Linked DNA regions of Homo sapiens: region 1 is linked to region 2. The links come from fine-mapping of genetic effects on gene expression. Tissue or cell type: blood mononuclear cells. Region 2 holds a variant in brackets; the other region holds the start of a gene. All regions are shown on one strand. Distances are between the middles of the regions.

Region 1 (9,800 bases), 29 kb after region 2:
CAATAGAAGCCATCGGGAGTGTCCTAGGAGTGCAGTGTTTTGGTAGAAGTGTTTTAGGAAGATAAGACCAGCCACGTTGGGAGATGGTTGGCTGGGGTGGCAGCTGATGTCAGACTGGCTGGAGGCTGTGGGTGGTGAGAGGTAAGGCAGTGGGGAGCTGGAGTATTTGAGTAGCAAAAGAGGGAACAGAAGCATCTAGGAGAGATTTGGAAAGAACACCTGCAGGATCTTGGTGACTGATTGCACGTGGGGGACCAGAGAGCAGGGACAGGCAAAACTGAATGCAAGGTTTCCAACCTTGAGCGGCACCACAGGCAAGAATGAAGAAATGAAGAAGGGGAGCTGGACGAAAGAGCCAAGGGATTTCTGCATTTTGGAATGAATTGCTGCTGGGTGGTGTCCATTTCCCTGAAGGCCTTTATCCTACGTGCAAGAAAACTCGTGGGAAGCAGAGGAAAGGCATGTGTAAGCCAACAATCATCTGTGGGCATCCTTCCACTAAAGTATTTGAGGTCAGGCAACTAAAGCAACCTCAAAAGTGCCTCTGGATTCTTCTTAGATATTTTAGCTGAGCCAAATCAATGAAACTCTCATGAAAAATCGGTTTCCCTGGAAAATGAAATTGGGTTCTAACCAACAAGTAGCATTTGGCAGGCCCTGATTAAGAAAGCCAGTGTTTGGAGAAGTTGTGAAAACAGCCAAGTCATTTAAGAAACTAAACACTGGGGCCTAATGCCATTCTAGGGCTGCGACGGCTGTTCTGTTCCCATCAATTGCAGAGCCCGAAGCCTCAAGTTTGTTTTAAGTTCCTGCCATTACAAACCTGTCGATTATCCCAGCCTCCCTTGCGGGCTTTGAAAAGAGAGAAGAATGGAAGGTGACTGTGGCCAATTTCCCCTCCCTGTCCAGTGTGTGGAAGACACTGAATATGCAACTACTGACCTTGTGCCTGGGCATCTTGAAGGTCTTCCACAAAGTGAGCTGGGCCTCAGCGGAAGATGAGAGTTCCTCTGTGGTCACTTCACTGGTACACATTTTCAGGTGTATTTCGTTTCTTCCATGCCTACATAAATTGAATCCTCTGTTAACCACCTCTGAGCTCATAGCTATTTAACATGACCCTGTAGTCCTGTGCATACAAATCACCTTGGGATCTGGTGAAAATGCAGATTCAGTGGGTCTTGGGAGGTTGGGAGGTTATAAGATTCCACGTTTCTTCATGAGAGCTAGAAAAAATAAATAAATAAATAAAAAATTTTTAAATTTTCCACATTTCTAATGAACTCTGGGGTTGTGCTGATGATGCTGTTTTGCAGATCACATTTTGAGTGGCAAGACTGTGGAAAATCCTTGAGAAATCAATCCAAAATCCCCTAAATGGTACTACAATCACACCTTAATGTTAGTAAACTGAGATGTTTCTTACCTTTATTTGTAACATGGAAAAAACAATTACTGTATATGAAGTACCATTCTAAGTTCTGTGTGTTACACAAGGGATGGCAATTTTCCCCAAAATTTGATTCACATCTTTTCATTTGGATATCTCTTGCCAAAACTCACCTTTTTTTCTCCCTAGCAAGTCTTGGGGAGCTGAATTTTAAGAGCTCTTTATTTAGCTATATGGTGGCCTCTGAAAATGATTTTGACTGTATCTTCTGTCTCCATGTATGCCCAAGCATCACCAGGAACTTTAGGGAGTAAGGAAAAGGCAGGCCTGGTGTCAGCTGGGCTGCAGATGCCAGCTCTCCCACCAACAGGCCCAGAACCAGTTTCTTTCCTAGGTTCCTTTGTGAAGAACTTGTTGGAACTACTAATTTATCATGATGCATAAAGCTTGTTGTCATACCCTACAGTATTATTTTCAAAACCTGAATGTTTTTGGTGACCTTTCATGTGCCACAAAATGTAAAAGCAGTCATTTTTTAAAAAGTGCTTGAAAAAGTCTAGTAAAGATTCTTCCAAGCAAGCCTCACTTTCTCCTGTTTAGATTGTTTAATCTGGAAGGAAAAAATTCTTTCTCAAATGACAGGGTTTCTGGTGCTCTGTGTTTGCCTGGTTGGCTCTGGGTCATCTGGGGATGGAGGGTCCCTGCTCTTACCTCCAGCAGCATCACTCTTGTCTCCAAAGAAGCAGCAACCTCAGGTGGGAGAATGGTTATACTCACAGCATTCTGCTTTTCATGTTTGAAAGAGGGGATGGGTGGTGGGGCATGGATGTGGGATTTTAAAAAAATATCTAAACCATAAATAAAGTATTACTGCAATCTCTTTACTGAGCTCATGGAAAAACTCAAGTCATCGAATGTTAGTTTTGCAGACTGGAGAAGTGAGGTCCAGTGAACTTGCTTGACTTGCCCTAAATCTTGCTAGAGAGAGAGCTGGAACCAGATGGCAGGGCTCCTGGCCTCTTACATACAAGGAGCATTTTTCCTAGAAACTGCAATGCAGCCAAATTCTACTGGTCTCAGGGGAAACTTGTTCTGGGAGTCAGCCTGAGCTTGAATCCCTTTGGGTTCTTCCCATTATCCTATGCCAAGCAGTCATGCTGAAACCGAGAAATGTTTTGCTTTCAATAAATGAAATGAGCATTTTCAGATAATTATTTCTGTAGTTGCTCAAAACTATCATATTGTTTCATTGAACCCTACTATATAGAACAATGACTGGGGAGAGGTAATAATAATAATAGCAATGCATATTTATTGGCCATTTTACTTGAATTGTATCATGTAATCTAGTTTAGAGTCCTGTGAGGTAGGTTTTATTATCCTCTCTATGAGGTTGAATAACTTGCCCAAGACCACACAGCTAGGAAGTAGAAAGACTGGTATTTGAACCCATCTTCTCCTTTTCTTCTCCTTCCTCCTCCTCCTCTCTTCCAACACCTGCTCCCAAGGAAGCTCATCCAGTGCATGACTTTAGCTACCACCTGCTCGTAGTGGTGACTCAAATCTGCATCTCCAATCCTCATACCTATCCTGAGCTCAAGACCTTTGAATATAGCTCCCTCCTGTCCATCCCTCCTGGAAATGCAGGTGGCTTGTTCACACATAATGTGAACACAAATGGAGCACTCTCCTCACACACCCAAATGTGCACCTTCACCAGCGTGCCCAGCACAGGCATCCCTTCCTGCCAGCTATGAGCCTCGAGGTTAGCTCTACTCCCCCTCCCTAACCCTGCATGCCCAAGGGGTTTCCAAGTCTAATCAATGCTACCACTAAAATCTCCCATACACCTGTTCCCTCCTCTCCACTAGCTTGATCACTCCCCATGCAGGCCCTCAGTTGCTTTATGCTCTCAGTAGGCCCTCCTCCAGTGCCCACACTCTCTCCCTTCTCCTTCCCACCTTCTTTCTACCAGAGTTCTAACCTCTCCAAGCCCCGCTTGTCTTTTTCTTTCCCTGGCTGCCATCCTAACTCGCCCCTTCCCTTCTCAGACAAGCTTCTACATGCTACTCATCTCTCCATCAAACCACCATATTCGGGCTTTGGCCATCTGCTCTCCACAGCCAAGTCCCCAGTGGCCTCTCTGCTTCTGACACAGTGAAAGCCATTCAGATCTGTCTTGTTGGCAGCATTCCTCACTTTGAGCAGCGCCCTCCTACTAGGATACCCCTCCTTGACTACAACCCCACATTCTCTACTTCCTGGGCTCTTCTGTCACTGGAGGATGACTCCCAGGTGTGAATCTTCATCCCGCGTCCCTCACTCAAGCCCCCGATCCTCATATCCAGCTTTATCCTCATGGGATGCTTCACCAGGATGAGTCATAAGCACCTCAGACTCAGGGTGTCCCAAACCACTCATCTACCTGGCAAGCCTGCACTCTGCATGTGCCTCATTCTGAACATGGCACCATCACCTGCTGCAATGTCCAGACCACAAACACCCTACAATATCCTTGACTCTCCTTTCTCCCCTTCTCCCTGTATACAGACTCCAAATTCTATTGAGACTATTACCTCCTACACCCCTCACATTTGCCCAGCCTTCCCCATCTCTGCCTCTACCACCATAGTTCAAGCTCTCCCATGGTCCCTTCCTGGTTACCTGTTCTTCTTGCCTCCTTAAGCCTCTCATGACACTGGCCATGTCACTTGCCTCCACCCATCACCCGCTAGGCTCTTAGCTGGAGTCTGGGCCCTGCTACCTTCCTCCCCTTCTTCCCTACCCTTGACTCCACCTCCCTGTGCTTCAGCCAACCAGATAACTTGAGTTTCGTGAATGCATGCCTCAGTTTACCTGATTAACTCATTTTCATCTTTCAGGCCTCAGAGCAGGTATCACCCTGTCAGGGCCAGGTGCCTCTTCTTAGCTCCCAAAGCCCCAGCTACTCTTCATGGAACATCATTGGCTTGGGCTACGGATCTTCCCAAATTGGAGCTTTTTCACAAAGGGCTTAGGTCTCACTCATTCTATTAATCCATCTGTGTCTCCCCAGGGCTAGCAGTGCCAAGTAACTGACAGGTGATTAATAGATGCTTGGGTAAGTATCACCTCTTTACCATGTGACAATTTGTTTACCTGCCTTGAGCTCCTCCAGGGCAGGACTCTTGCCTTTGCAGAATCTATCTGGCAGGTACTGTTGCAGAGATGTTTACTGAAGAAGGGAATGAATTAGTACCAAGGTGAGGACCCCACCCTTCCCCACGGGCTCCAAAAGCAGCTTAGAGCCCAACAAAACCTGCCCCACATTTTTGGCGTTTCTGTGGATCACACGATTTACTCATCTGTCTTTCAATGAGCATGACAGGTGGGGTGGGGGTGGAGGGATTAGAGATTGAGGAGCTGGGGAGGGTGGTCAGCTCCTGGGGTGCAGAAACAAGTCTGATGGGCCATGGTGTTCTGGGAATCAGCACTGCCTCCCCTCACCCCTCCCTGCAGTGTTTTGTAGCCTCAAGATCAGTGAGGGAATCTTCGGGCCCCCAGCATGCAGGACCGAAGCCCCCGAGACAGCTGTCCCTCAGTCCCAAGGTCCCCATTTGGAAGCAGCCACAGGAGGCCTAAGGGACCTATACCCTTGGTTTGAGGAAGACTGTGGCGAGGGAGAGAGGGAGGGAGGGCTGGCAGTGAGGGCAAGGGCTGGGAAAACTGAGCACGGGCACAGTGCGGGAGCGGGTGGGTGCCCAGGGCAGCCAGGGGCGCACGGGTTGGGAGGCGCCAGGCGGCCCGCCCTCCTTGCACGGGCCGGCCCAGCTTCCCCGCCCCTGGCGTCCGCTCCCTCCCGCTCGCAGCTTACTTAACCTGGCCCGGGCGGCGGAGGCGCTCTCACTTCCCTGGAGCCGCCCGCTTGCCCGTCGGTCGCTAGCTCGCTCGGTGCGCGTCGTCCCGCTCCATGGCGCTCTTCGTGCGGCTGCTGGCTCTCGCCCTGGCTCTGGCCCTGGGCCCCGCCGCGACCCTGGCGGGTCCCGCCAAGTCGCCCTACCAGCTGGTGCTGCAGCACAGCAGGCTCCGGGGCCGCCAGCACGGGTAAGCCGAGCCGCCTGGCCAGGGGCTGCGGAAGGTCAGGTAGTCGGGGCTCGGAGCGCAAGCCGCTGGGGGCATTGAACTGGGCTGGGGGCGCAGGGGACAAAGCCCGAACTAAAAACCTTGCAGCATGGAGCGCTCGGACACCAGCCCTGCACGCGGTGGAAGGAGAGAGGGAGGGAGGTGGAGGACCATGGAGGGAAAGCGGGAGGCCGCCGCTTTGTAGAAGGGAGTGGGGAAGTGGACCAGAGACTTTCGACGCAGGCCAAGAGCCTGAGACGGACAGCGCTTTCAGCTTCTCCTCCCAGCCACTGCAGAAAGGGGGAAATGGCAACTCTTTGGCCATAATCACCGTGGGAGGGTGCCAAGGGCAAAGCCCACCCAGCAGTACACCTATTCCAACCCAGCCAGGCCCCCGGCCAGCGACTCCAGACAAGAACCTGGGCCACACACGGTGGCAGCATCTAAGGTGCCCCAGGCTCCTGTGCTCCTGGCCAGGCCCTGCACTCAGACACTGCTGGCACCCGACACTGCTCTCTGGGTACAGCAAGGGCAATGTGGCACTTCTTGTCCTGCCCGATGAAGAGCAGGAGAATGCACTGGGCCCTCACACACACTGTTCAAATGGGGAAACTGAGTCCTGAGTGGTTCCACTTTCCCACAGTCCTGAAGTGTGCACTGGAGCCAGGATTGGAGTCTGTCTTAAAGTAATAGCTGGGTTTGTAAATGTAGGACACTATCATTGCAGGAATTCCTTTGAGACCCTGAAGATGTGTTGGCTTTAGGAGACAAACTCAAGCAGAAGGTCTGGTCTGATAGTGGCCCTAATACTGACCCAGGCAGAGGCAGGCAACATTTCTACCTCAAAAACCAGGCCATACCTGCGTCACAAATACCCAGGCTTTGCTGCAGCTTCCAGCCTACCTGGTTGCACCAACTTCTTTTTCATAACTAGGTAAAACTATATATGAGTAGAATCTTGTAGTGACTCCTCAGAGGAAGCCTAAATACCATCGGGGTCTGGCGTTCACACCCACAAGCAATGCCCAAACCTCCAAGAGACTGGGCAGATCTGTGCTCAAATCAAAACTCATTGTTGGGGGTGATAGAGTTGACTTCACAGGCCCTGAAAGTCTTGGCTCCTTGCACTAGGAGTGCTCTGGGTACGGGTACAGGCTGCCCCTTGTAGGGCATAGTTGCTCTTGTTTCCTCTACTTGTGGCTTTATGGTCTAGGCCTTTCAGGAGTTTGGGGCTCTGGCGGAGAGGGCCTGCTGGGAGCACATCTGGCCACCCTGCAGAGTGAAATCAAACCAGGCCTGGCTGCAACCTCAACACCCTCCTGGAAAGAGGAGAATACTGGGGATATCCTGGGGTCTTTCTGGAAGTGGGAGAATCAGCTTTGACTTGGGCAGTGTGCAGAATAGAGTGAGGGGGGATGTCAGAAAGATGAGAGGGATATGAGGCCTCAACATCAAAATGCAAGCACCTGGCATTTTTATTATCTCTGCCCACCTCTCCGTTGGTCTCTCTGCCTTTCCTGCCAATGAATTGTGTTATGTTTGGGTGCCTCAATTTGCCTAGGAGGGTTCTATTTCTTCTGTATCTTCGCCACTAAGTCAGGAGAAGATCCTTATAGCATGCCCTGCAACAGTGTCACCTGTAAGGGCATCTCTCTGCACAGCCACAGTGAAGGATCCTCAAAGGTATTGAGGGCTTTCCATCAAGAGCCATCTTTACAGCAAACCTCTTTCCCTTCAGAGCCCAGAAGAGTGCTGACCAGCTGGAAAACAGGGTTTTTTTCTTAAATGCAGATGCTCTTGATTATGAGTTCCAGATATTAGATCAACTTCCCCACCATACCCCTGCAGGCAAAGCCTCTTAATTAGCTTCCTGCAGCACAGCTGGAAAGGCCTATTGTAATCTGTGATGGGCAGAGTAATCTAAGAAGTCACAGGAGCACCCCTGTCCCAGTAGAATCTGGATGCGCAGGCACATGAACCATGGCAAAATGGTTGCAGGCACAGTTGTATTTACTCTGATCTAACTGTCCCTGTTAATGCCACAGGGCTGCCTGGCCTGGCACACAGGGCTGTGGCGCCTTGTGCAAATGGATAACGTTGTTCTAGCTCCAGCCTTTCATTCAAAGTGAAAACTGTTAGAAAGGGAAGGAAAACTTTGCTATTTTAAGGAATTGTAGCGTGCTGCCTGATATGAAGGAAGAAATAACAGCTGTGCCTTGCTTGTGCGCAGCACTCGATTGCCGCTTTTGCTTTCGACCTCACCACAACACAGTGAGATCTACTGTTCATGTTCCCATTTTACAGGAGGTGAAACTGCAGCTTAGTGAGGTAGAGAGTGACTTAGTTCAGACACAGAATGCTGTTGGGAGAGTAATAACTATGATATGGTCTCTTGACTCCCAGCTATATCTGTGTTGCTATAGGGAAGGGGAAAAATAATACTGAAAGAGAAGTAAAAATACAATCACACTTCCAAACATCAACCACCAAAAACTGAACTGAATTTCCTGAAGCACTTGGTTTTCAAATCTAAGCTGAACATCAATGCTGTTATTCTTGAGGCCCAGAAGCAACTTGCTCATTTCAATTAAGCTTCAGCATGAACTTCCTATGTACACAGCCCACCCACACTCCCCGATGTGAGAAGGAGAGGGTCACAGCCGCCCCCAGCCTCTGCTGCTGCCACAAGGACAGCAGCAGTGGAAACATTCAGCAAAGGAATGTTGGAGCCACATCCACAAGAGACTCACTGAAGATTCGCCAAACGCCTACGGAAAGTGGCAGGGAATTCATTGACAGTAATTGTTTCCTGCTTGATCAGATTGAAGAGCTTCTGGGATTCTGTAACAATAAATAGGACCGGGGGCTGGAGTATGGCCAGCAAGGACTCTTCAGGGGTTATTCAGGGACTGTCTAACCTGTGAATCCTAGGCAGCAAACAGAAACCAGGTATTCAGAAATCTGGAGGATTTGGTCAGGCCCAGCTAGGACTAGGGAGGCATGGGCCTCTGCTGGCTGTGGTCCCTTCTCCAGCCTTCACTTCTCTTGTCCCTAGATCCTTACATGGATTCATTAATGCTCATTGTCCCTCCTGGGCCCACTCACTTTCACCTGTTGAACAAAAAACTGGCCAAGAGGTGACAGTCATATCACCGCAGAAGAGACAGGGCAGAGAAATGAAGGGGCAGAATGGACTCCCACCCAAAAGCCTGACTCTGAATATTTGAGAATTGTTCAAGTTCCTGCAGAGGAATCATGATGGGGACAGTAGGTGTAGTTTTTACTGCAATATTGGTGTCTTCTTAACAAATACGCTGCACATCAAGTGATGTCTGTGGATGGCATTCTTAAAGTAACAGGGAAATTGATGTTAAAGAAATACTTCATCCTTTGGGTGATACCTGAAGTTCTCTGAGCTTGGAGGTCTTGTGAAAGCCCTCAGTATTGTTTGTTTTATTTGCTTTCCTCTGACTTGTGATTCAGTCAGATGCATGCCTGCCTCTGGCTCAGGAAGATCAACCCTCTCCTGACTGACCACGCCTCTCCTGACTGACCACGTAGCACAGCAGCTTCCTTTCCCTAGGGGCTCCTAATGAAGCTTTCACAATCACCTGGCCTGAGCACAGTTTGGGTCAGGACTTGGTATACTTGAAAAAAACATGCAAAACCAAAATCCTGTGGTTCTGGAAAAGGCTTCTTAGCAGAACCCCCAGACATTTACACTCTGCTTTTTCACAGGGTCCCTGAGGATTCTTTGGATCTGGGTAGTTTGGGGAGCAGTATTTTCAACAAGTTCATTTCGTGCTCCTTCTACACCCTGCCTGGATGCTAGGCCCCATCTAGAATGTGAACAACAGAACAAGGCAGAACACTTGTCCTCAAGGTTCTGTTGAGTGTTAGATGCAGAGAAGAGACACCCCCCACCTCCCCGCATCACTTACAGGAATTCTGTTTGGAACCCAACATCAAATAAGGACCGTATCCACTGTCAGAGGATGGGAAGCAGCATGTCATCTGGGACATTGGAGAAAGGCTCCTGGGGGAAGTGGGACTTGAGCTGTGATCTAAGTAATGAACAACTGAGAGTTAAATGGGAGAGCATCCCCTATCAGGGTCCTGAGAGCAACCAGCCATGGTTTAAACCAGCTATAAAGCCTCGGGTTTATAGGATAGACAGTAACAATGGCTTGTCTTTGGGAGCCAAGCAGCTGGTCCAGGCATGCAGAGCATGTCTGTATGGAGAGCTGCCTGAGAGATGCTTTTGTTTACACTTATCAATTGCCCATGTCAAAGAAGGATATGTACATGA
Region 2 (11,059 bases):
GTGGGCAAGAGAGAAGAAGCAGATTCTAGTAACTAACTCTGCTCTATAGCTGGGGAAACTCAGTGGCCCCACAGCAACTCAAACAACCAGCCCTCAATTCTTTTGACCCTTAGCTTACTTTTTAGTGCATAGTTTCATCTCAAAGTTATAACATTTTTTAATAAAATAATAAGTAAGAGGAAATACTGTCGTATTTGATGGGGGAGGTTGCTAAATGATAATGACACTTGGATGTCAGGACATTCCATGTCAGAGTGGCCCTCTCCTTTTGCTGGGAATTTTCTGTCAGCACAGTCTGAGTACTGTGTTGGGGGTGGACTGCCAGGGCTCTGTGGTGCAAGTAAGGAGGCTGTGCCCCTATTCTAGGTAAGAGGCTGTAAGAGCTTGGATTTGGATGCTTGGGTGATGAAAGTGCAAATGAAGGACAAAGTCTTCTTCAAGGGAGATGTAGAAGGCAAAATTGAATGTACTTAAGGAGGATGAGGGTGAAGATGGTGAGAGAGGTGGCTCACAGGCTCTGGAATGGATGGTCCAACCATTCTTTAAGATAGAAAACTCTGGGAGATACTGGGAGTTAGATCAAGAGTTCAACCTTAAACAAACTGACATGGTGCTGAAACTTCAAGTGGACATGTCAACTATGAAAGTAGAGACAGGATGCTGTGCCTTACCCCCACTCACACTGGGTCAGCTCTGCTGTTTTCTGTGTGATAGGGTAGCATTTCATGTAAAGATTTGCTGTGGTTTGAATGTTTTTGTTCCTTCCAAAATCTATGTTGAAACATAATCCCCAATGCAACAGTATTGGGAGGTATGCCTTTGGGAGGTGATTAAGTCACGAGGGCTCTGCCTTCATGAATAAGATTAGATACCCTTATAAAAGGGCTTGGCAGAAGGAGTTTGCCCCTTTTGCCCTTCCGCCTTCTGCCATGCAAAGATAGCATACCTCGCCTCTGGAAGATGCAGTGCTCAAGGCACCATCTTGGGAGTGGGGAACAGCCCTCACCAGATACCAAACCTACCAGCACCTTGATCTTGGACTTCCCAGCCTCCAGAGCTGTGAGAAATACATTTCTATTGTTTATAAATTACCTAGCTTGTGGTGTTTTGTTATATTAGCACAAATAAAGTAAAACAAGTGTTTTTTTTTTAGAAAGTAGTTCTATAAGGACAAAAAATATTGAAAGAAACATGTCTGTAAGCGGTGGGAAGACACTGAAGGATTTTAACCAGGGAAATGAATTGAATGGATTTGTATTTAAGATCCACGTGGGAGCAGTGGATGAAAGAAAGTTGAGATCCTGGTTCGGCTGGCCCCTTCCTAGCTGTTTGAATTTGGGGAAATCACTAAACCCTTGTGAGCCTCGGGTTCTTCATAAGATGGAGATAGTGCTGCCTTCTTCATCTGGCTGTTATGAGAATTATAATTAAAATGCCTAGGATAATAAATGCTTAACATGCACTGGTTTCCTTCTCCATGATGGAGTACCTGCTGATAAGGTTTAACAAGTGGGGAGGGAGAGAAGCTAATTAAGAGGTTCTAGTCATCTCCCCAGAGAGGAGTGGACAACCCCTGACTTAGGGCCAGAAGACTGCAGAGTCTAGACGGCTGGGTTATGGAGTGCTGGAGTCAGGGCAGTGCGCACAAGTGTTGGGCTGGGTGACTCCAGTGGAAAGTAGTGCTGATAATCATGCTTGGAATTCAGGGGGACGGAGGGCACTTGGGGTTTGGTCAAGAGGAGGGTCCACCCTGCAGCCATTGTACACACAACCCCCATGCCCCCATTAAGACTGCAGAGCTCTCCTCCCCTTGCCTTTCCTTGTGAGCACCCTCTCTGCCCCTTTCAGCCTCTGCTGCTGCTCATGCCTCGCCACTGAGCCCCACAGCAGCCAGCTGAGCTTTCCTGTTCTCTTCCCTCCTTTCCTGTTTCATTTCCGAGGCTCTTCCAAGCCCCCGGGCTTTTCACACAAACACTTTCTTTTCCTACCTCAGAACTTGGTTTTTGCCTCTGCACAGTCAGGGTTGCTAGCTGCTCGGGTATCATTTCTTTTCTACCAAAGAAGGGAATGTTTTCTTTTTATGGGGCTCTCTCCAGGTCTGGAGCCCTGCTGGCTTCTCCACAGCTTTAGGTAACCCACAAAATCCTCAGCATTCTGGCTGCTGCCCTGGCTGTGCCTGTCTCTCCGGGCAGTGTCTTGAGTGACAGTGGGAGGAATGGGTCATGCCTGACTAATCAAAAGCCACAGCAGGCAGCATTGCCTGGACTATGGTCCTCTGACACTTCATCCAGATGATGATGCCTTCATATTTGTTAGAAACTTCATGCCTTCTTCCCAGGACCCGGCTTCCCTAGAAGTTAATCAGGCTGGTGGCCAGTGGAGTGGCTGTGGATTCAGAGCAAAGCAGTGTGGCTGGTCCCAAAAGCTCTTTCTCTGGGCCATGGTGAGACCGCTGAAAGAGCTCCACCCCACCACACAGCATGGGGAGAGCTCACAGCCAGACTATCCTTGAACCCCCCAATCTAGGCCTTTCCGCCTGAATACATGGGTCCTTTTTGCCATCCTCTCTGTTCTTTTTCTGGGTTTTTCTGGCCAAGCAATCTCTCTTTAAGTCGGTTAACTTACCTTTTGAGGCATATCTTTGCTCTCAGCCTGGGAGCTCATCTGTCTCTGGGAGATGGCTCTACCTAAACAGAAGTCTGTAGATGTTTTCTTGGGCTCACCCTTCTCAAATCATGTTGAGAAATCATGAGACATGAGAAATCATGTCTCAAAGCATTTCCAACAAAGCTTTAGCTGACTCAGAATATACAAAGATTTTTTTCCAAGTCAACTTTATTGAGGCATAATTTATGTGTAATAAAATGTATATATTTTAAGTATACAATCTGATGAGTTGTGACAAACGTGTACATCCACATAGCCGCCACGACAATCAAGACACAGAACATCTCCATCACCCCAGAATGCAACGTTTGCCATTATCCCCCCAACCCCAGCCATGAGCAAACACCCACCTGCTTCCTGTCAATATAGATGAGTTTTGCTTTGTCTAGATTTTTATGTAAATTATCATACAGTAGATATCATTTATATCTTACACTCAGCCTACGATTTTGAGATTCACCCATGTTATAGCATGTTATGGATAATTTGTTCTTTTTTTTAGCTGAGCAGTATCTCATTGTATGGAAATAAGATAATTTGTTTCTCTCTTCACTCAGTGATAGACATTTGGGCTGTTTCCAGTTTGGTGTATTACAAGTACAAATGCCTTTTCTGATTCCTGATGTAGCACCTGGAGTAAACACGTCTGTTGCCCTTAGAGAGCTTAAAGTCTTGGCAAAAAGAGACAATTTAAATGATTTAATCCTCGTGGAATTTTATTATTGGATATGATTGGGATATAATCAACTGCAGGGAGGCTTGTAGTTGTGCTGGATGCTATGGAACCGGCAGAGAATGGAAGAGTACAGGGGGCCGGGGTCACTTCAGGGCATTTTATTTTATTGGGGAATGGCATGTGAAAGCTCCATCAAATGACGCTGGATGGAGCCCTGCCCTGGGAAGCAGGCAGAGGAAGACCACAGGGGGAGCAATCCTGGCAGGTGAGAGGCTGCAAAGATGCCGCCAGACCTGGAATAGAGAGTTTGTGTTCAGCAAGTGGGACAGAAATCACGAAAAGGCCTTGAATACTGCTCAAATTGCAGGACCTGCCACTGCCATGATGAGTGCCACTCTGAAGCCCTAAAAGATGACAAGGGAGAGTAGGAGAAGCAAGCCCAGAGGAGAAAGAAAGTGGAGAATGGTCCCCAGAGGAAGGGAGGCAAACAGGGAGCAACAGCTACGCAGGTGACTGCAATGTAAGAAGCCATCCAAGAATAGACAGTGTTTCAAAATGCTCAGGAAAAAGCAAGGTGCGGTCTTCTGGATGTGGCGGCAGAAAAACCCCAAGAGAAAGACATCATCAACATAAAAGCCTGGAAAAAATAGGGATCATAAAGATGCCAGTGTGACTGACAAACAAATTAGAGGTGTTTGTCTCTCGTACTCTCCCTTATCATCTTTTAGGGCTTCAGAGTGGCACTTCTCACTGGGGCCATCTGCAAGCTGTTCTTCGGCTCAGGAGACCATGGCCCTGCTACACAGTCTCCCATTTTCACATACTTGTTTTTATTGCTGGGTAACAAATTACCTTCAACTTAGTGGCTTAAAACAATACAGTGGCTTTTTTTGTTTAATCTCACAGTTTCCATGGGTCAGGAGTCTGGACATAGAGGAGATGGGTTCTCAGCTCACAATCTCATCAGGCTGAAATCAAAGTGTTAACCAGGGCTATGTTTTCATTTGGAGCTCAGGGTTCCCGGTAATCAGAATTCAGTTCCTGCAGTTGTAGGGCTGAGGTCCCATTTTCTAGCCAATCTAGGGGCTGCGCTCAGGTCCTAGAGGGCCGTGCAGGTCCCCTCCACGGGAAGTTCACAGCATGGCTGTTTACTTTCCTTCAGGCCAGCAGGAGAGTGCCTGAATTACATCTGCAAAGTCCCTTTTGCCATACAAAGTAACATGTCACTGGAGTGACAGCCAGTCTTATTTACGGGTCCCACTTACACTCAAAGGGAGGAGATGATGCCTGCACAGCAGGGACCAGGAATCTTAGGACCCATCTTAGAATTCTGCGCATTGCACATGGTTTTTCCTTTGACTTCCTATTTCTCCATCTAGAAAGGCAGGGGCTGTGGGCTAGGTCCTCTCAGAGATTCTGCTCTGCACCAATACTCTGAGTCTGTGTTCTCCTTCATTTTATGATTAGAGTCCATTTGGAAGCACTATGCCCAATCATCTCATCCAAAATGTGCCTTGAAGATAGTGATGGGGACAGGGGCAGAGATGACTGAGAACCACTGAAGGGGTCGCAGGCCAAGGGAGGGGCAGCTGAGTAACGGGCAGGGAGGCCTGCTCCTGGAATGGATGTTTGGTG[A/C]GTCATTAGGGCTGTTCACATACATTCTGTTTCTTCTTCTGAGCAGCGGAAGTGGGATTTTACTTCCCCATCCCCTTTGCAATTCAGTATAGGCATGTGCCTGACTGTGGCTGGTGAAATCTGAGCAGGGATGATGTCTATCATTCTGAGCTGAAGTTTTAAGAGCCCGTGTGTGTGTGTGTGTGTGTGTGTGTGTGTGAGTGTGTGTGTTGTCTCAACTCCCTTGTCCTCTGCTATAGTGACTAGCAGTTTGAGACGGTGGCTGCTTCATTATCCTGGGTCCCTGAAGGGATGCAGAACAGAACTCCAGCCAACCCGAAATGGACTTGTGGCACAGATGACAGAAATAAATCTTTGTTGTTTAAAGCCCCTAAGATTTAGGATTGTTTGTTACTGCAGCATCACCTAGCCTATCCTGGCTGGTACAAAAAGGACAGTATCACAGTTATTCTGGCTGCCACCTTCTCTTTTTCTCCGGAAACTCTTATCTGAGCCAGGTCTTTGATGCAGTGGCTTCTCAAAGATATAGCCATAGGGTTCAATCTTGATGAAAAGTGACTGTGTTGCTCTATAGTCATGTATCTTCCGTCATTCAAACTGAGCTACTCACCTGCTTGCTGAGAGAAGATGCTCTCCCACACCCTGGGCCCTCAGCCCTCATGATAAATAAATAATTTTTGTTTGAGAACAAATAAGAGTAATTAGCACATTCAGGGAAAACTGCCAGTCAAACCTGACTTGGACATGCTTTGATGTAGTTTACTTGTCATCTTGTTCTGAAAAATCTCAATTACCTGCAACCTGCCATTCCCGCTCTTTTCTTTTCCTACACCTCTAATTTGTTTGTCAGTCACACAGGCATCTTTATGATCCCTATTTTTTCCAGGCTTTTATGTTGATGATGTCTTTCTCTTGGGGTCTTTTCTGCCACCACATCCAGAAGACTGCACCTTGCTTTTTCCTGAGCATTTTGAAACTCTGTCCGTTCTTGGATGCTTCTCACATTGCAGTCACCTGTGTAACTGTTGCTCCCTGTTTGCCTCCCTTCCTCTGGGGACCATTCTCCACTTTCTTTCTTCTCTGGGCTTGCTTCTCCTACTCTCCCTTATCATCTTTTAGGGCTTCAGAGTGGCACTTCTCACTGGGGCCATCTGCAAGCTGTTCTTTGGCTCAGGAGACCATTGCCCCTGCTCCACAGTCTCCCGATGAGGGAGGATGCTGGCAGAGGTTGGCTGCCACTCAATTACCCAGACTCATTCCAAAGACCACGCAAATTTTTGTCCAGAGGGATGGTGACTGCCAGGGGGACCGATAGAGGGTACACAGGCATAGATCACCCTCAAGCAGAGACTACAACTGGTTAGGACTATGAGAAGAAATTATGCACAAGAGCGTGTCATAGTGTAAATTATGCCATGGTTTAAAGAGGAAATAAGACACAGAGAGAATCTGGCAATTATAATAATAATAATAACTAACAGTTAATGAGCACTTTCCATGACCCAAGCACAGCGTAGACACTTCCTATGGATTATCTCCTGCAGTCTTCATATTTCCTGTTGGGTAACACTAGTCTCATGCCCACAATTCGGATGAGGAAGCAGGGGCTCAGAAAGTTAAAGCAGTTCACCTAAGGTACACAGCAAGTAAGCAGAGAACTGGGATAGGGTCCCAGACAGCTGGCTTCAAAGTCCATGCTTCTACCCAGGCAAAGGGAAGAAAGAACTACACTGGCCAGAGGAGCTACCCCCTAGTTGCCAGTGTCCATGATGATTCCCTTGTGAGGAGGCCCCCCAGTCCAGATCCTTCCCATCCCACCTACCTGGAACTCGCTTCCAGCTGATTGGCTACAGGGCTCTGCCACATGATGCAAACTGGAAAAGGCCCTGTTTGAACTCTTCCCCTGCAAGAGTTCAGGCCCACAGGTTCTGGTGTGGGCTTGCTCAGCTGGAGGTAGCCTGAGGTGAGCTGGAGTTTACAGCCCTGGCTGCAGGCATCCTGCCGGGTTGGACTGCCTTGCTTTTCAGAGTAGGGGGAATTGAATTATTATTGCATCAACTCCTCCGACACTCTGAGAACTATGGCCTCCCTCATTCCTTCCTCTGTGGCTTTTCTCTGCCCATAAATGAAAAGCAGATTGCCTCACTGGTGCTGGATGCTCAGAGCAGAACCGCATCCTAGGTGTGGAAGAGCAGAAATGTTTCTCACCATCTGTTTCTCGTTGACTTCAGTGGGGCCATGCTTAGACAATGGGGCAGTATGCAGCCTGCATGGGGTGTGGCCCCACAGGGTGACCCCATGGCCTGCTGGCTGGCAGGCTGGGGAGTGGCCCTCCTCTGCCTTGAAGGCCAAGAGGCTGGGGAGCTTGTGTTTCCTAGAGTGTGGGGGTGGTTTCCCCCTCATTTGGCCGTTTCTTCTTCCTTTTCTTTCTAGAAAGATGGATTTCAGCTGTTTTCCCAAGACTCATAGTAACCTCCTAGTAAAGTCGATATTTACTGTGTGTGTGTCTGTGTGTGTCTGCCTGTGTGTGTGTTATGAACAGTGTAAATGTATTCTACGTTTAATGCAGAAAACCTAGAAGAATGAAAAGAAGCAAAAAGTAACAGCCCCATTATCAAGATTTTTTTTTGATGTGTTCTGTCAGTGGTCTATTTTTCTTGATTATTTTTTAGCATCATTAAAAAAAAATATCGGGACCTAATGCACGCTGCTGAGTTAGGCAGTATTCTAAGTACTTCGCAGGGGATAATTTCAGGTTGCATATAGTACAACCCTATGAGTAAATAATTTCATTAACAGCATTTTTACAAATGAAGACACTGCAGTTAAGAGGGGCAGGAGCTCCGCTCAAGATCACCCAGGAAGGTGTGGTGGGACCAGGACTCAGGACTCAGTTGCAGGTTGGGTAACTCCAAATTTCACAGCTCATAACTACCTCCACCGTACACACTATACATGAAATGCAAGGCAGTTTGTGTCCTGTTTTTCACTAAGCAGTAGATGGGGACTATTCAACCAATAGTCCTGTATGCATGATTTTAACAGCTGCGTATATCTCATTACATAGATTTAGCTGAACCTGTTTAGCCAATCCCCTGACTTTGGGTTGTTCCAAATGTTGTCATTATAATGCTGAGATGATCATTCAATACAGATACCCTTAAGGCTATATCCATTGATTTGCCAGTAGTGGAATTTGAGCTAATAGACATGCATGATACTTTAAGAAGTTTTGAAAGATGAGGGAAATTGCCTTTAAGAAAAGTTTTACTCTTTGCAACACTAAGCATTATAATCTTTCATTTACGAAAATAGCAAAGAAGATTTTTTTAAATGCATGATTCCTTTTTATACCTTTCATTTTTTTTAGTGATCCAAATAGGAAACTTTTTCATTCATTGTCAATTTTAACTTAACCTTCTGTAAACTCAATGTTCATGCTCTTCACACAATGTAATTTATTAGGTAATTTATTTTTACGTTGATTTGCAAAAGCCTTTTACATTAAGGATGTTGATCCTTTGCCACCTGTGTTGCAAACATGTCTCTCGGTTTGTTATCTGCCTTCTTATCTTGCTTATGATGTTTTGTATTTTTGTGAAATAGAGGTTCAAAAATGCTATGCAGCTAATCTATCAATCTTTTTCTTGGTACTTTCTTCCTACAGTATTTTATTTTTTAAAGTTTTTTTTCTGTCTTACCTAAAATATTAAGTAAACCTTAGCATTAAATACAGATATTGTCCTATTGTTTAAAATTGAAGTTGCGGTTATTTTATTTTCTAGCACAACAATTACAGAAAGTATTTATATTCATTTTTGGTCATTTTTGTTTATTAATTTTTAAACCACAATCTTCTGAATATATACATCAAGAATAGCAGGTAAGAAATGAATGTACCACCCTGCTCCCTTTTTCCCCAGGTTGGGTGTCACTCACTGACCCCTGCATTCTCTCCCGCAGAGCTCAGAAGGGGCTCAGAATCTTGCTCAATACAGTAATCCTCAATGCCACAATCCTCAACACAGGTACTCCTACAAATTGAGACCCATAGGTCTCATCATCCTTTATGTTTAACAATCATTAAGAAAGACCTACACTGCGTAATAGCTTTGGTGGCCATCCGTCATTGCAGGTGATACTTCCTAAATTGTAGGGTGAAAGATATGGCATAAGAAATTAATTTCTTGGTCTTCTTATAAAATTTCAGAAGCCAAGGACAGCTTAGGGAAATAGCAAAGGGCTAAGCATAAAATCTCAGAATTCTCTGATAACACAGTCCAACTGGACTTTTGAATTTGGGATCTATGCTCCATAAAAGAAGAGCTGCATATCCAGAATTCCCTTTTTGTTGTTGTTGTTTTTTGTTTTCGTTTTTGTTTTTTTGAGACAGAGTCTCGCTCTGTTGCCCAGGCTGGAGCACAGTGGCGTGATCTCGGCTCACTGCAAGCTCTGCCTCCCGGGTTCACGCCATTCTCCTGCCTCAGCGTCCCAAGTAGCTGGGACTACAGGTGCCCGCCACCAGGCCAGGCTAATTTTTTTTTGTATTTTTAGTAGAGATGGGGTTTCACGGTGTTAGCCAGGATGGTCTCGATCTTGTGACCTGGTGATCCACCTGCCTCAGCCTCCCAAAGTGCTGGGATTACAGGCGTGAGCCACTGCGCCCGGCCTGTGTTCTTCAAGTTTATTACCTCAGTCACTAGTATAAGTCTATTTCAAGTCCTTGAATGTCTAAGAATGTCTGTCTGTTGCCTTCATAAGGCTGCAAAATTACTGGATCCTAACTTTCTTCCTTCAAAACTTTCTAAAGCCTGCTCTATACAGGGTGGCAAAGGACAAGTCTGAAGCCAACCAATTTTGTAAACTTTGAAAGAGGTATTTTTTTTCCCTCAATGCTCATGACATGAAAACAAATTAGTCTTATAATTCAAATATGTTGCTAGAATGTGTTTTAGCCCCTGTGACACAGTGAGGCCTCTCTGTCAGGGATCCCCTAGGCCACAGGTCCATCGCTGTTTGGAAACCCACTAAAATGACTCACAAAACTCAGCTTAAAGTGTACTCAGCTTAAAGTGTACTCATAGCCAAGATTTATTACAGCAGTGTTGTAAGGATATATGAGTGGCTCATGAAGGGAAAAGGCACAGGCAGTCTGGAGGAATTCATGTGCAGGTTTCCTCATGCTCTCTCTCACCCATTAGGAGTCACGCACAGCTTACTCTTCACCAGTGAGAAAAATGAAACAACGTATGCATGATGTATCTGTCTAGGGAAGCCCATCAGAGACCCATTACACAAGTTTTTTTTACTGGGGTCTGATCATGATCATGTAGGTCCTTCTGTCTAGCATGAACTAAAATTCCAAGAGAGCAGGTGTTTAGTAGCAGGCCTTTCTAAGTATTGCAGTCTTCAGGCCTGCTCGGTGAACTCTTTTCTAGACAGCCCCCTTTAAATTTATTTTTTTTAGAATGCTATGGGCCATTTCGATTTGCATACTAAGGGCTGTTTTCTCTAATGATATCTTTGATTATTGCTTTCTTCCCACTTGAGTGGGTTTCTTTCTTCAGAAGTTCTGTAATTCTTGGATATAGCAGGACAGAGAAGGAGGACCGAATCATCCTGTCCTTCCTCATCATTTTCATCATTTTGCTCTTCTCCTTTGATCTCATTCTTGCCCTCCACATTACTGATTCACTTTTCTATGGTGTCAGCTCTGCTCCTTGTTGACTTAATTTTTTTTTTCAGATATTGCATTAAAAACATTTTTAATTGCAAACCTGAGTACTTTTTCAGAAGTTTCATGATTTTCTCCCCCCAGTCCCCACCCCTCCACCCCTCCTCAAATAGTGAAAGGTCTATCTAGACCCACTGATTTATAAAAGAGAAGTTTTAGGGGTTTGTACTTGTCACTGCCCTTGACATCTTGGGTGTCTATCAAAAGCCTTGTTAAATAAACAGTTGAGCAGCCGATTGTGGTGTGCAGCTTCTAGTGCTGTTCTTAGTGACCACACGTTTTTGTTTACTGAACGTCTGTTAAACTGAAATCCATCTTCTTCTACCCCACCATGTAGCTCCTTGACA

What was found. PIP is the estimated chance that this variant, and not a neighbour inherited with it, causes the effect.
Region 1: TGFBI starts here. The variant in region 2 is fine-mapped to the expression of TGFBI in blood mononuclear cells (TOPMed, PIP above 0.99). The same link has a PIP of 0.9 or more in T cells, monocytes and whole blood.

What each region holds. Positions count from the first base shown.
Region 1 is chr5:136,023,717-136,033,516 of GRCh38, forward strand. TGFBI (transforming growth factor beta induced) reads left to right here and starts at 5,272. Exons shown (of 17, transcript NM_000358.3): 1 at 5,272-5,473. The coding sequence starts at 5,340. LOC105379189 (a long non-coding RNA gene) reads right to left here and starts at 2,177. Exons shown (of 4, transcript XR_948809.3): 1 at 2,102-2,177; 2 at 1,147-1,226; 3 at 943-1,063. RefSeq lists an enhancer at 7,489-7,558.
Region 2 is chr5:135,994,562-136,005,620 of GRCh38, forward strand. No RefSeq gene overlaps it. Among named protein-coding and RNA genes, the nearest start is that of TGFBI, 29 kb to the right of the region's middle. RefSeq lists an enhancer at 6,805-7,306. The variant A/C (reference allele first, on the strand shown) is at 4,979.